Linked DNA regions of Homo sapiens: region 1 is linked to region 2. The links come from fine-mapping of genetic effects on gene expression. Tissue or cell type: blood mononuclear cells. Region 2 holds a variant in brackets; the other region holds the start of a gene. All regions are shown on one strand. Distances are from middle to middle.

The links. PIP is the estimated chance that this variant, and not a neighbour inherited with it, causes the effect.
Region 1: EIF4A3 starts here. The variant in region 2 is fine-mapped to the expression of EIF4A3 in blood mononuclear cells (TOPMed, PIP above 0.99).

Annotation. Positions count from the first base shown.
Region 1 is chr17:80,142,831-80,151,009 of GRCh38, reverse strand. EIF4A3 (eukaryotic translation initiation factor 4A3) reads left to right here and starts at 3,882. Exons shown (of 12, transcript NM_014740.4): 1 at 3,882-4,217; 2 at 6,766-6,838. The coding sequence starts at 4,049. RefSeq lists enhancers at 1,801-2,513, 2,514-3,227, 3,228-3,940, 3,941-4,655 and silencers at 3,224-3,413, 4,254-4,303.
Region 2 is chr17:80,166,710-80,174,855 of GRCh38, reverse strand. It overlaps CARD14 (caspase recruitment domain family member 14), which reads right to left and starts at 4,826. Exons shown (of 24, transcript NM_001366385.1): 1 at 4,800-4,826; 2 at 1,628-1,950. The variant A/G (reference allele first, on the strand shown) is at 3,136.

The DNA of each region.
Region 1 (8,179 bases), 24 kb after region 2:
TCAAGACAACAGCATGGGGGACTCATCCCCGTGATTCAATTACTCCACCTGGCTTCTCCCTCGACACGTGGGGATTATAGGGATTATGGGATTACAATTCAAGATGAGATGTGGGTGAAGACACAAAGTCTAGCCACGTCAACAACTTTTCCACAGGTGGTGGAAAAAAATTCTTCCAGAGATGGATGGGGTAGTGGTTTCGGGATGAAACTATTCCACCTCCCATCATCAGGCATTAGATTCTCATGAGGAGTGCACAACCTAGATCCCTCGCATGTGCAGTTCACAACAGGGTTCACACTCCTCTGAGTCCAGTGCTGCTGCTGACAGCAGGCAGAGCTCAGTTTAGCTCCCTTGCTTGCCTCCTGCTGCACCGCCTGGTTCCTAACAGGCCACAGACAGGTGCTGATACTGGTCCGTGGCCTGGGGTTTGGAGATTCCTGCTCTAAAAAGTGGATTTACCCTCATCATCCCAGGGCCCCTCAGCCTCTAAGAAAAGAGGCCTCTTGGTCACAAAGGTGGACAGACCCATTAAGCTCTGGGTGAGCAACCCCGTCTCCAGCACCTCATGTCCCACAATGTTTGTGTGTTGGGGAGGGGTCCATCTCACGCGATTAATCTCAAGGCAGGAGAGCCCATGTCTGTTTTATGCCCCATTGTTTCCCTAGAAAGCATCGTTCACCCAGAGACTGCAGCAAACCTCAGCAGCTCTCATCATTGTCACATTGTCATAGACTCTGGGCTAAAAAGCTACTGCTCCCCAGAAAAGTTAGAGCCCTTTAAGATGTGTGTTCAGACACCTGGCATAAACAACATTTCCAGAAAAATGGTGTAAAATGTTAGATCATCTAGTCATAAAAATATGAAGGAAAACAAATCTAAGCAGTTTGTGGATTAGATTTTAACTTTGAACAAGGTGAGAGGCCTGGTAGCTCACACCTGTGATTCCAGCACTTTGAGAGGCTGAGGTAGGAGGATCGCTTGAGCTCCTGGGCTGGGGCCAGGATGTACGGTCCTCAGTAAGGCTTCTGAATAAAACTAACTTTAATTCTTTAAAAGCTTAACTGTTTTTCTTTAGTCAACAAGGTATTTTACATTCTTCTCCTACGTTAAGTCATTGAAATCTGTGTGTATTTTACGACAAAGCGCTACAGCACGGCCTGGCAAACAGTGTGAGGCACGAAATGATCCTTTGTAGAGTGAGGAAGGTATCAGAACTTACATTTTATTCAGCTTTATAAATATTTAATATTTTGGGTAACACCAGCATCCTTACAAGGAATGTTTATCAGAAGGTCAATTATCTGTCATGGATAAATTCTGGTGCCAGAATGAGATTCACTCTTGGAGAAGGCTGCATTTACTTGTTCACCCTTGAAATACTGCAATCCACCGACTTCTTGATAAAAGGATGCTCTGGTTTTCTGTTTATTTTTGAGATGGAGTCTCTGTCGCCCAGGCTGGAGTGCAGTGGCGCAATCTCGGTTCACTGCAACCTCCACCTCCGGGGTTCAGGAGATTCTCCTGCCTCAGCCTCCAGAGTAGCTGGGACTACAGACACCCGTCACCACGGCCAGCTAATTTTTGTATTTTTTTTTTAGTAGAGATGGGGTTTCACCATTTTGGCCAGGCTGTTCTCGAACTCCTACACTCATGATCCGTCTGCCTCGGCCTCCCAAAGTGCTGGGATTACAGGCGTGAGCCACCAGGCCTGGCCAGGATGCTCTGGTTTTAACTAAAATTAACCTTCATAAAAGGAGAGCTTTTCAAGCACTCCTAGAAAGAAGCTGTGGATTAAAGATGTGCCCAGCGATGCAAGCCAGATTTGTGACCATAAGAAAGGACAGGACCGGGCTCATGCCTGTAATCCCAGCATTTTAGGAGGCTGAAGCGGGCAGATCATGAGGTCAGGAGTTCAAGACCAGCCTGACCAACACGGGGAAACCCCATCTCTACTAAAAATACAAAAATTAGCCGGGCGTGGTGGTGCATGCCTGTAATCCTAGCTACTCAGGAGGGTGAGGAAGGGGAGTCGCTTGAACCGGGAGGCAGAGGTTGCAGTGAGCCAAGATTGCGCCACTGCACTCCAGCCTGGGGAACAGAGCGAGACTCTGTCACACACACACACACACACACACACACACACACACAAAATAGCGGGGCGCGGTGGCTCACGCCTGTAATCCTAGCACTTTGGGAAGCCGAGGTGGGCGGATCATGAGGTCAAGAGATCAAGACCATCCTGGCCAACATGGTGAAACCCGGTCTATACTAAAAATACAGAAAATTAGCTGGGCGTGGTGGCGCGTGTCTGTAGTCCCAGCTATTTGGGAGGCTGAGGCAGGAGAATGGCGTGAACCTGGGCGACAGAACTTGCAGTGAGCTGAGATCGCGACACTGCACTCCAGCCTGGGCGAACCGAGCAAGACTCCGTCAAAAAAAAAAAAAAAAAAAAAAAAAAAAAAGGACAGAGCTGGCGCTCGTGGAAATACAATTTTCCCAAAGTTAAAAACATGATTCTCAACAGCATGAACTGCCCTTCAAAGATGATGGAGCTGCTTCAAAAGGCGTTAGAGGAGCTGGGTACGAAGAAGCACTTAAAGTGTCAGATAAGAAAGCGGTTAGTGGCTGCGCGTGGACACCTGTGGTCCCAGGTGCTCTGGAGGCTGAGGCGGGAGGATCGCCTGTGCTCGGGAGGTGGAGGCTGCAGTGAACCGAGATCGCGCCATGGCACTCCAGCCTGGGCGACAGGGCCAGACTGTCTCAAAACAAACAAACGAACAAACAAAAAGCAGGTTAAGATGCACAACTGGTTAAAGTTCTGCTGGGCAATTAAAAAATGATCCCGTCTGGGTTATCTTTGCTGCAGGACACGCATTAGCAGCACCGTCTACTGACAAGTGGCCTTCATTAAGAGCAAATTGCAGGCTCAGCATGTATTTTATTTATAACAGCTGCTTGCCGGGCACAGTGGCTCATGCCTGTAATCCCAGCACTTTGGGAGGCCAAGGCAGGCGGATCACCTGAGGCCCCGCAGTTCAAGACCAGCCAGGACAACCCTAACCCCCGCCTCCCCCAACCCCGTCTCTACAAAAAAATTTAAAAAATTAGCCGGGCGTGGTGGCGCGCGCCTGAGGTCCCAGCTACTCCAGAGGCTGAGGCGGAGGCTACAATGAACCCTGATCCTACCACTGCACTCCAGCCTGGGCGACGGAGCGAGACCCTGTCTCCAACTCACCAGGCAAACGGTGAAGACACACCCAGGCGCGTCCCCTAAGAGGGACGCCGGCTTCAGGGGCCCTGGCCCTCCCCAGCGCAGACCCGCCGGAGCCCAGCGCCGCGCCGGGGCCCACCACCGGCGGCCGTGAGGGTTTCCACTCGAATCTCCCCGGCGAGCTGGGCGCCTCCACTACGGGTCTGCGACGCAGTCCACCCACTGCGGGCCCGAGAGAGGACCCGTGCTCGTCATTTTTATTCGAGGCGGGGCTATCTGGGGACCCCGCCCGGAGCGGAGGCCCCTCGCGGCCCCAGCCTGTTTCCAGGGAATTCAGGTCCACACGCCGCTCAAAGAACCTCAGCGCCCCAGTCCGCGAAATCCCGCGGCCGGTACGAAACACCGCCAACTTTAGAAGTACCACCCCCTCCATCCCTTTCGTAAGGAACTGGGTGCCCCGCCCTCAACGAGATCCCGCGGGAACTGCATATGGCGCGAGAGCAGAAACACCTTACTTTTCCCTGCGGCAAACGCCCAGTTCCCTTTCACGTGACGAAGAGTGCCCCGTCCCCCAGAGGCGTGGCCGCGTCGCGCGTACGCACGTACGCACGTACGCACGCACGTCTCTCGCTTTCGCATACTTAAGGCGTCTGTTCTCGGCAGCGGCACAGCGAGGTCGGCAGCGGCACAGCGAGGTCGGCAGCGGCACAGCGAGGTCGGCAGCGGCACAGCGAGGTCGGCAGCGGCAGCGAGGTCGGCAGCGGCACAGCGAGGTCGGCAGCGGCAGCGAGGTCGGCAGCGGCGCGCGCTGTGCTCTTCCGCGGACTCTGAATCATGGCGACCACGGCCACGATGGCGACCTCGGGCTCGGCGCGAAAGCGGCTGCTCAAAGAGGAAGACATGACTAAAGTGGAATTCGAGACCAGCGAGGAGGTGGATGTGACCCCCACGTTCGACACCATGGGCCTGCGGGAGGACCTGCTGCGGGGCATCTACGCTTACGGTGAGCGGGCGCGGGCCGCGGGGGCCAGCCGGGGGCGAGTCGGGGGCGAGCCGGGGGCTGAGGGCCAGACTGGTGACTCCCGGGCCGGCCCTGCGCTCCGGAGGTCGTGGTCAGGGTCGAGGCTCGGGGGCCAGTGACGTCCGACCCCCACCCCCACCCCCGTCCTCGCCCTCACGCCTGGCTGTGTCGGCGCTTTCGGTGTGTGTCCCCCGTGCAGAGCTCGGCGCTGGGTCTGTCGGGGGCTGCAGCCGCTTCGAGGCACCTCAGCGTCCTTCATTCAGCAGATAACTGATTTCTACCTATTAGCTTTTCTAGGTACTGGGGTTTTGGCGGTAAACCGGAAGGGTTTGCGCCTTTACGGGTTTTGAATTTCGTTTGGGGGGAAAGCATACTGTCAGGTTGCCCAGGCAACCTGAAGAACCTGAAGCGGGGTAATTGAATAGAGTGGGACTGGGAAGGAGGAGAGAATTAGTAAAGCAGAGAGGTAAGGGGGTTCGCAGGAGGGGGTGCCATTTGAGCAGAGTTCTGGATGAAGGAGACTGTTATGAGAAGAGGGAAGAGCAGTTGGGGCAGAAGGAACAGCTGGTGCCAGGGCCTTGCAGCCCTTAGCCAGCTGCATTCCAGGAACTGAAAGAAGTCCCCTGTGGTGGGATTTTGGAGAGCTAGTCGGGGCAGATCTAGCAAAGACGTGTAGGGTGACGAATAATTTGAATTTCATTTAGAAATCTAGTGGGAAGCCAGTGGAAGGTTTTAAGTAGCTATGTGACACGATCACATTTACAGTTTTAAAGATTCTTCTGGGTGTCTGTAGATTTGAGGTGAGGCGAGGCAAGGCAGGAGAGGAAACAAGAGAGTTGGGAGCTTTTGCTGCAGTTCAGGGAAGAGAGGATTGTGCTGCCTTGGAGATGGAGTACCAGGGAGCTGACAGCATTGGCTGATGGATTGAACGTGAGTGACAGAAGGAGGAGAGTTGGAGTGTTTTGAGTAACCGGTGGTTGATGCTGCAAACATTTGGCTAGGTAGGCAGCACTCCAGAGAGTCAGAATCAGGAGCTGTCTCTTGGTATGTTTGAAAGATGTGAGGAAGTTGAGGGAGAGCCTGGAGAAGAGGTTGGGTTGGGCACATAGATGGGAATGACCAGCATCTGGGATAAATGGCCTGTGTTTAATGCTTGGGACAGGGACATTTTTTATCCTGTAGTTCTCTTCCTTTTCTTTCTTCCTTTTCCTTCTGACAGTCCTGCTCTTGTCACCAAGGCTGGAGTGTAGTGGCATGATCTCAGCTTATTGCAACTTCCACTTCTGGGGCTCAAGCGATTCCTTTGCCTCAGCCTCCCGAGTAGCTGGGATTATAGGTGTGGGCCACCACGTCCTACTAATTTTTGTATTTTTAGTAGGGAGGGGATTTTGCCATGTTGCCCAGGCTGGTCTTGAACTCCTGACCTCAGTGATCCACCAGCCTCAGCCTCCCAAAGTGATGGCATTACAGGTGTGAGCCACCCCACCTGGCCGTATCCTGTAGTTCTTGATGCCACAACAGTTTGGACAAAGTGAAGCGAAGTTGCTGAGGATGCGTGGTGAAAAAGCATCTCAGGCAGCCTCACAGTGAGGCTGACAGCCCCACCTGGTTTCCTGGCACTCAGGCAGTCCCTGCCCTAAGACACTGTTGTTAGTTTCCCATCTATGTGCTTGCTCTTCATGAAGAGTTTAAATCATCTGCTATATTTGCATTTGTGTTAAGATGGGAAATTGTGCTACATTTTCTTTTGTTTCTTATTTTTCGCTATGCCCCAGAACTGAGCAGAGCTACATTTAAGAGACTACCAAAAAATAATTGAAATAGAGTTTTTGTACATAAAATTTTATTTACTTGAAAAACACGTGGTTCTTCTTCAAAATAGCCTCACCCTTTGGTGTAGTAGTTGCTTTGCAAGAGAGATGGTGTGATGGTGTTGTAGTTAGTGAGCTGCATCCAGACAGAACAACATAGGACACCCTGCAGCGTGACCCACGCAGGTTAAACAGAGTTGTAGACCTGTCAGCAACACACAGACTTAATGCTAGCTAGTAGGAGAGAACAATGGCTAGAGTGACTTTCCTGTTTTTTTGTTGTTTTTTTTTTTAATTTAAAAAGTAGTATAGGTTGTTTGTAATCCAGTCAAACCTAAGGGAGTAATTAGAGTAAAAAGTAAGTTTCTTTCCACCCCTCTACTGCAGTAACTGCCAGGAACATTTTGGCACTTACACTTCCAGATGCTGCACACCCAGATTTTTTTTTTTTTTTAAACAAAACTGTTGTCTATATTCTACAATTTGGTGGTTTTTTAAAAATAGAGATTGGTCTTTACAAATAATATCCCACGTTAGTGTAGAAATCACTCAGCCCAATTCATTGAGCCCCTGGGTTTTGAGAGCTTGCTATGTTGAACACTGGGTTAGGCTGGAGGACAGGTTCAAAAAACAAACCATGTCTGCCCCTGAGGAGCTCACAGTACAGGGTTTCTATGCTGTCATTGTGGTGAGGGCTAATTTTTTGTTTTTATTTGCAGGTTTTGAAAAACCATCAGCAATCCAGCAACGAGCAATCAAGCAGATCATCAAAGGGAGAGATGTCATCGCACAGTAAGTTGTCCTGGGGTGCGGCGCAGGGCTGGATGTAAATTTGGGCAGCGCAGTGCAGTTAGATGCTCTGGGATGACTGTTTCCCTCAGCTTGTACACGCTCAGTTCCAACACTTTCCCTGACTTTAGCCACAGGGTTTAATACTTTTTTAAATTTGTGTTCTCTACTGTGGAAAGCTTTCATTTTCTTTTTGAGATGGAGTCTCGCTCTGTTGCCCAGGCTGGAGTGCAGTGGTGCCATCTCGGCTCACTGCAACCTTTGCCTCTCAGTTTCAAGCTATTCTCCTGCCTCACCCTCCCAAGTAGCTGGGATTACAGGCATGCACCACCATGCCCGACTAATTTTCATATTTTTAGTAGAGACGGGGGTTTCACCATGTTGGTCAGGCTGGTCTCAAACTCCTGACCTCAGGTGATCCACCCTCCTTGGCCTCCTAAAGTGCTGGGATTTCAGGCATGAGTTACTGCGCCCGGCCAAGGCTTTCATTTTCTTAGCCAGCTTTGCTTAGTGGTTTGCTGGCATGTGGAATTGTATATAACACAATTTCGGAAAAACAGACTGTGCTTTTCCTCTGCTCTCACACCACCACAACAGTCATCAGCACAGAAGAAGACTTCTGTGAGCAGAGGTGTGGGGCTTTTCCAGCTGGGTGTCCTCCAGTTCAACTCACACCACCTGCCTGGAGATAGGCCATATCCTGCAGGTTGACGGCTCAGTCCCCATGACTACCCTCTTTTCAGACACCAGTTATAAGTTCGGATCTCTAGAACTTCTGACCAAGCAGCTTCAAGTTGGGTTCCCAGGATCCCCTCTTTAGGTTGGATTAATTTGCTGGAACAGCAGCTCAAAGAACTCAGGGAAACACATTTAGTGGTTTATTATAAAGGGTACTGCAGAGGATACAGATATGGGGGGAGGGGTGCAGCCTCCAAGGGGCGGGTGGTCACCTCCCGGAACCTCCTTGTGTTCCACTGTCTGTGTTCAGCCATCTAGAAGCTCTTCGAACCCAGTCCTCTTGGGTTTTTATGGAAAATTCCATGAGGTCAGCATTCTTTCCCCCATAAGGGAATAGGGCAGGAGCTTTTCTGGGATAATACCATAATGCTTTTTAAAAAAAAATTTGAAATTTAAATTTTTTACATTTTTCGAGACAGGGTCTTACTCTGTCTCCCAGACTGGAGTGCAGTCGTGTGATTACAGCTCATAGCAGCCTCAAGCGATCCTCCCACCTCACCCTCCCAAGTAGCTGGGACTACAGGCACACATCACCATGCCCAATTAATTTTTGTATTTTCTGTAGAGACAGGGTTTTGTTGTGTTGCCCAGGCTGCTCTCAAACTC
Region 2 (8,146 bases):
TCCCTCTACTGTTTGGGCAGCTGAAGAGAAGTCTAGGGAAGTCAGAGAAAACGCCCCAGAGCTGCCTCCAGCTTCCCTGGGAGTCCTCAGCAGGAGTGGGGAGGGGGCTGTACTGAGCCAGGAGAGAACCCAGGCCCGGCTGTCCTTCTCAGCGCAGGGCAACCACTGGATTTCTTTAATCACACATCCAGGACTAAACTACGGTGGGAATAGAGTCTTCCAGCCAAATAAGAAGATTCTTTACCCTAAGAAATAATGCAAGCAGTAGAAATCGGGGTAGGGGGTAGGGGAAGGAAGGCATCACTTTATCTTCCATGACCCTGTGCTATCTAAAATAAAGGAAGTCCAGGCGACGTGGCTCACGCCTGTAATCCCAGCACTTTGGGAGGCAGAGACGGGCAGGTCGCCTGAGGTCAGGAGTTCCAGACCAGTCTGGCCAACATGGCAAAACCCTGTCTCTACTAAAAATACAAATATTAGCTGGGTGTGGTGGTACATGCCTGTAATCCCAACTACTTGGGAGGCTGAGGCAGGAGAATCGCTTAAACCCGGGAGGCAGAGGCTGCAGTGAGCTGAGATTACGCCACTGCACTCCAGCCAGGGAGACAGACCGAGACTCCATCTCAAATAAATTAATAAAATAAAACAAAACGCTGATTTTATTTTATTGTATTTTCCGTTTTGTGGAGAATGGGGTCTTGCTATGTTGGCCAGGCTCTCAAACTCCTGGGCTCAAGCACTCCTCCCGCCTCTGCCTCCCTAAGTGCAATGATTACAGGTCTGAGCCACCAAACCCAGCACTGTTGATTTTACATAATGTCACTAATTTATCAAGGTTTTTGTAATCTCTTATCTGAATCTTGGGGATTTTTTAGGAACTAATAGTTCTTGTCATTGTGAAACTGTTCTACTACATTTGGCATTCCATTATTATTTTTAACAATTAAAAAATATTTTTTGGCTGGGCGCGATGGTTCACGCCTGTAATCCCAGCACTTTGGGAGGCCGAGGTGGGCAGATCATAAGGTCAGGAGTTCGAGACCAGTCTGGCCAACATAGTGAAACCCCATCTGTACTAAAATACAAAAAATTAGGCAGGTGTGGTGGTGTGTGCCTGTAATCCCAGCTACTTGGGAAGCTGAGGCAGGAGAATCACTTGAACCTGGGAGGCAGAGGTTGCAGTGAGCCGAGATTGTGCCATTGCACTCCAGCCAGGGTGACAGTGCGAGACTCCATCTAAAAAAAAAAAAATGCCGAATCTGGATGCACTGCCTATGAGTTAGCCCAGCTCCTCAAGGAGCAGTACATAAAAAATAAAAATAATAAAAAAAAACTTTTGCCAGCAACATCTGAGCTGAACTAAAATTTAAGTAAAATTAAAAGTTTACATTTCAATCATGTAGAATATGATACCATTTTTATAAAATGGTGTTAGTTTATCTCTGGGAGTCCCTCAATCTATGTGCCCATCCATCCATTCATCCAATCTGCCGATCAGTCTGTCCTGTCATTCCGCGCGCGCGCGCGCGCGTGTGTGTGTGTGTGTGTGTGTGTGTGCATGAGAGAGAAAGAGAGGGGGAGAGAAATGGAGAGGCAGAGAGCAGAGGGATTCTGGAACACTCCTCACCAATGCTAATGCTTGCTGTTCATGGTGGTAGATTGTAAAGAAATCTGTTTAGGCCTGGTGCGGTGGCTCACGCCTGCAATCCAGCACTTTCAGAGGCTGAGGCAGGCAGATCACTTGAGGTCAGAGTTCGAGACCAGCCTGCCAACATGGTGAAACCCCATTTCTACTAGAAATAGAAAAATTAGCCGGCTGTGGTGGTGCTCGCCTGTAGTCCCAGCTACTCAGGAGGGTGAGGCAGGAGAATCGCTTGAACCTGGGAAGTGGAGGTTGCAGAGAGCTGAGATGGTGCCACTGCATTCCAGCCTAGGAGCCAGAGTGAAACTCTACCTCAAAAAAAAAAAAAAAAAAAAAAAAAAGAATGTTTAGAATAAGCAAGTATGGGTTCAATAAAAACCATAGTCATTATTTTAGAAAACAATAAAATTAATCCAATTGATGAAACAGAGAAGGAGATGGGCCTCATCCTAGAAGTGTTCGCCACAGAACACTGGGGTCCTAGGTTGTCTGGGACAGTCCTTTTATGACTCTTGTCCTGGAGTAATGATCAACGGTGCCACCTTTCTCTCTCAATACAGACTCGGTTTAGGGGGCATCATGGCAAGGGGAGGCGAAGGCACGCCGACGCCGAGCTCCTCCAGCTACAGCGGGGACACCAGCAGAAACGTCTCCTCTCCTGCTCCCCTCAGCCCCGATGAAAGCGGCACATGGAGAGGGTGGGAGCCCAGGGGATGACAGATACTGGCTGAAGTGGGGAAAGTTCTAGAAGAAGGAAAGCGGGAGGAAGTCTTGGCTGGTCTAGGATGCATCAGTCAGGAAGACAACTGTTTCTTCCCCTCAGGGCAGGATTTCTCAGCTTTCTACTTAGTGAAGGAGAGTGCAGCATCTTTATAAAATCCCAGTATTTGCCCCCAAATCTCTTACGAAACATCTACTTCAATAGGCATTCGGCCTGAGCCTAGAGGTTCCAAGGCAGATGGAAAATACAGGTGTCCCTAAACAGTCGCCTACAAGGCCTTTCTTTGGGGCCAATGGCCTTGTGATTAAGTTGGTGCCAAAGAGCCAATGACTGAAAAACTAGGGCTTACCGCAGTATAATGTTTGTTTCTAGCAAATGACACTCTGGCACGCTCTCCAGTATCTTACTATATCGAGTTGCCAAGGGGCCACATCTCCAGCTTGCAGCTGAAACCCTGGGAGTTCTGGACAGCCAGGTCTCTGCGGATATCCTGAGGACCAGGACTGGTGGTCAGCCGAGGACTACAGGTTTCTCGGGTGCCTTCCTGGGGCTGGGTCCAGGTGGCAACGACCGGGTCTGGGAGGGTCCTCTAGTTGGATTGTCCCTCTGCCCCTGACTTGCCCGAGCCTCACAAGACTCCTGAGGAGGGTCTGAGGGTGCTGACTGTGCCCTCCCATCAGACTGAACTCAGAAAGCCAGGGCAGCTCAAGCCAAAGCTGCCTCACCAGCAGCTGAAGACAGGGGCTCTGCAGAACTCTCCAGACCCCAGCCA[A/G]CTGCCCCAGCCAGCTGCCCCTCAGGCTTCTGGAGCCCCCAGAGCCACACTGAACTTCAAGCATCAGTGGGTGGAGCTAAATAGAAGTCACTAGTCCCTTCTGCAGTTGCCATGAAGCAACTTACAGTAGTCTCCAATGGCAGTTAACAATTGCAGGAGTTTCTTTGTAACTTGTCCCAGTGTAAATAAGGGTTAGTCCTAACAGTAAAACAAAACAAAACAAAACAAAAAACCTTAGGGCTGGGCACAGTGGCTCAGGCCTGTAATCCCAGCACTTTGGAGGCCAAGGCAGGAGGATTGCTTGAGCTCAAGAGTTCAAGGCTGCAGTGAGCTATGATTGTGCCACTGCCCTCCAGCCTGGGTGACAGAGCAAGACCCTGGCTCAAAAAAAGGAAAAGAAAGAAAGAGAGAGAGAGAGAAAGAAAGAAAGAAAAGAAGAAAAGAAAGAGAGAGGAAGGAAGGGAAGGAGAGAGAGAAGGAAGGAAGGAAGGAAGGAAGGAAGGAAGGAAGGAAGGGAGGGAGGGAGGGAGGGAGGGAGGGAGGGAGGAAGGGGAGGGGAAGGGGAAGGTGAATGGGAAGGCGCCAGGAGCCGTGGCTCACGCCCGTAATCCCAGCACTTTGGGAGACCAAGATGGGCGGATTACCTGAAGTCAGGAGTTTGAGACCAGCCTAGCCAACGTGACAAAACCCTGTCTCTACTAAAAATAAAAAAATTAACCAGGTGTGGTGGCGTGCACCTATAGTCCCAGCTACTTGGGAGACTGAGGCAGGAGAATCACCTGAACCCAGGAGGCAGAAATTGCAGTGAGCCGAGATTGTGCCACTGCAACTCTAGCCTGGGCGACAGAGGGAGACTTCTGAAAAAGGAGAGAAGAGGGGAGGGGAGGAGAGGGGAGAGGAGGGGAGGGGAGAGGAGGGGAGGGGACGGGAGGGGAGGGGACGGGAGGGGAGGGGAGGGCCCAGAGATCTCTAATTCCAAACTCTGAATCTAACTGTACAGCAATTCTAGAAGAGCCTAAGATCATAAAATCCTGAGCATCTAAGATGTGGGTTCTCCTTATTTGACCCCTCCCAGGTCAACATCCTTCTCCTAACCCAAGTGTCAGTCTCTTCCCTTGCCAGTGAAGTAGGGAAGAAGGCATGTACACATACACACACGCACACGCACACACACACATGTACATACCCCATGGGGGGCAGAGGGTCACAAGCCCAGGAGGAGGGGGCACAGCTCACCTCGGCCCCCCAGTGCCATGACAGGCTGGCTGTGCCTCTGCTACCAACAGCAGCCAGCTGGTCTTGCTCACTTTGTTCTGAACTTAGACACCTTCCTTCTGCTGTCTTTCATCCCACGGCAATAGCGAAGAGATGAGAGTATAAAACAGAGATCCCTTTCATCTAGCATGACCCATGCTGTTTTAAGGCAGAACTCAGCATTCAGAGAATGTTCCAGTGATTGACCCAGCAACACAGACAAGCCGTTTTCTGTTCTCTAGTCCACATACAAGGCAGCTCCTCCACTCCTGATGAGGAAGATGCCGGCCCCTCCCACTCCCCTGGGACCACTCTCGGGCCCCATCAGACCTGTGTCGGCTGAGCCCCTCCGTAGGCTGAGCCCTCCGTAGGCTGACCTGCTCTTCGCCGGATGGACTGCGCGCACTTACCTTCCCCCTCCCAGGGAAGCGAGGACTGAATGTGGCCCAATCTCTGGCTGAACTGAACGGCAGTGGACAAGCAGGTTTGACAGGCACATCCCACAGGAGCAGTGCCTTATATGGGGCTTCTATGAGCCATCGAAGCACCAGTGCAGTCCCACAGCTAGACATTGCCGTAAGAACCACAGGGATGGCTGAGAACAGTCCGTGCATCTGGTCGACCCACAGAAGATGGTGATTGAGGGTGATTGAGGGGAAGGCTTCAGGCTTGGGGGCTGGGAATCCTCTCTCCTTTGTGAACGGTCACCCAGTTCATCATCATTTCTACCCTTGGGAAAATCCTACGAAGATCAGGATAAATTCTAGGGCCTTTCTTGGTTCTCATGATCCATTATTGGAAGTATCTGAATAATTCCAATAGATCCATCTCAAGTTAACATTTCATAACTATTGTTTAGATTTAGATGAAAGTCTTGGTCCTCCACCTTGAGATATGTCTAGAATCCGATCCATTCTCACCACCTGCATTGTGGTGTCCTGATCATGGCCCACCGGGACCTCTGTAATGGCTCCTAACTTCTTCCCACGCCCCCATCACCAGCGCTCAACACAGCAGACAGAGAAGTCCTGCTAGGGCATGAGTCAGCTCCTGTCATTCCCTTCGGTGTACAGGTCCTGGAGTCCTCAGCGTGACCATGAGGCTCTGCTTATCAGGTCCTTGCTGACCTTATCTCTCTTTTACCTGCTCCAGACACACAGCCCAACAGTCTTGACAGTCCAGGCACACTTCTGCCCCAGGGCCTTTGCACCTGCTGTTCCCACTGCCTGGAACACTCTTTCCCATCCCTCCTTCCAGACTCTACTCAAATGCTACTTCCCAGATCATCCTACTTAAGTCCGTAGACCTCCCATCCTGGCCTTCACTCCCCTTCCCTGTTCCATCTTCTCTGTGGGAATACTGCCTTGACCTAACGTGTATTCTAGTTACGTGGCTTCCTGCCAGCCTCCCCACTCCACAGTAACCTACTGAGGACAATAATTCTTGTCTTTCTTGTTCCCTGCTGTGTCCCCACCCCTAGGGCTGTGATATTCCACAAATATTGGTTGAGCGAATGAATAAACATTGGTTAGGGGCTTGGTTCCCAATGATGCAGACACTGAAAGAAGGGAAATTCACAGGTCCATGGCCTGAGAACCTTCAGGATTATCCTGCGGACAATCAAAGATCGGCCTTCAAGGTCATGTAGCTCATGGTGGCTGAGCAGTAGCTCCAACCCAAATCTCCTGGTGATGAGCCGGCTGAAGGCACAGCCAGTTGGGCAGAGCAAGTGAGAACGCAGGCCGAGGCCAGGTGCAGACATGAACTCTCCAACCAGGGTTACAGCCCCACTGGGTGTCAGCTTCCCCTCAGGCAGTTCATTTAAGCCCCTAAGGCTCAGCTCTCTTAGTTTCCTCCAGCAGACCTCATGATAAGCCCTCCCCCACAGTGGGGAAGCTTGCCAGCTCATCACACTGTGCCAGCCACACAGAGAATTCTAGTTACAGAAAACGCAAAGAAATGCCGCCATTCCCAGTAAAAGAGGGGGGCAGAAGAATGCACTGGAGATGGGAGGAGCCTCCCTAAGAACAGAAATAGCCATAGAAATAGTCAAGGTGCAGCCATAGAAAGGAATGAAGGGCCTTTGCAGAGACATGGATGAAGCTGGAAGCCATCATTCTCAGCAAACTAACATGGGAACAGAAACCCAAACACTGCATGTTCTCACTCATAAGTGGGAGCTGAACAATGAGAACACATGGACACAGGGAGGGGAACAACACACACTGGGGCCTATGGTAGGGGGAGTGGAGGGAGAGCATCAGGACAAATAGCTAATGCACGTGGGGCTTAAAACCTAGGTGATGGGTTGACAGGTGTAGCAAACCACCATGGCACATGTCTACTTATGTAACAAACCTGCACATTCTGCACATGTATCCCGGAACCTAAAATAAAATAAAATAAAAAGAAACAGTCAAGGAAGCCACAACCCTGAAGGACCCTGTGTTTTCTGAGGTCAAAAACCATATCTTAGGCTAGGTGCAGTGGCTCATGCCTGTAACCCCAGTGCATTGAGAGGCTGAGGAGGGAGGATTGCTTGAGGCCAAGAGTTCGAGACCAGCCTGGGCAACACAGGAAGACCCTGTCTCTACAAAAAATAATTTTAAAAAAAAGCCGGGTATGGTGCAACATGCCTGTGGTCCCAGCTACTCCGGAGGCTGAGGTGGGAGGATCGCTTCAGCCCAGGAGGTAGACGCTGCAGTGAGCCGTGGTTGCACCACTGCACTCCAGCCTGGGCAACAGAAGGAGACCCTGTCTCAAACAAAACAAAACAAAACGTATCTTAATCACTATGGCATCTTCAGGAGGGCCCCACTGGCAGGTCATCTATATCACACAGAATTGCAGCTGCATACACATATCCAGAGCCAATAAAGCAGCACCTCTAGTAATCTGGCCAGGTTAGGTTAGGGTATCCCTGGAAAAACTCAGAAGGGGGACCTGGGGGACAGGGGCCAGCAGGCACCAGGACAGCACCACCCAGGGGCTCTGTGCCCCGTGGCAGTGATCAGTGAAGAAACGGACATGTGCCAGACTTGGGCCAGCTGAAGAGCTCCTCTGGGCACTTTTTTTTTTTTTTTGAGACAAGTCTCACTCTGTCACCCAGGCTGGAGTGCAGTGGCTTGACCTCAGCTCACTGCAGCCTCCACCTCCCAGGTTCAAGCGACTCTCCTGCCTCAGCCTCCCGTGTAGCTGGGATTACAGCTATGTGCCACCATGCCCAGCTAATTTTTGTATTTTTAGTAGAGACGGGGTTTCACCATGGTGGCCAGGCTGGTCTCAAACTCCTGATCCCAAGTGATCTGCCCACCTTGGACTCCCAAAGTGCTGGGATTACAGGCATGAGCCACCATGTCTGGCCTCCTCTGGGCACTTTATTCATCCATAGAAGGTAGGGAGTTGGGGAAAAGCTTTGCCTTGAAATCATGATGTTGGCACCAGAAGAAGATGGAGGCGTGAGGCCCTAGAAGAATAAAAATCAGACCCTCACAAGAAAACCCCAAGATCAGGAGTTTAGGTTGATCGAGGAAGGGGGCCTCTACCTGACTCCCCTGCCATGGGTGGATGTAAATAAAGGGTCAGGGTGTATAAACAGGGAGCGTATGCGTCTTCACTCTTGTACCTGGGGGCTGGGAGGATTCCAGGACTTCTTCCAAGACATTCGAAACAGGTCCTCAACATCCTAGCTGGAGACCAGAGTAGGTGTCTCTGGCTGGGTGGCTCTGCAGCGTGGCTGGCTGTGGATGAGGATGAG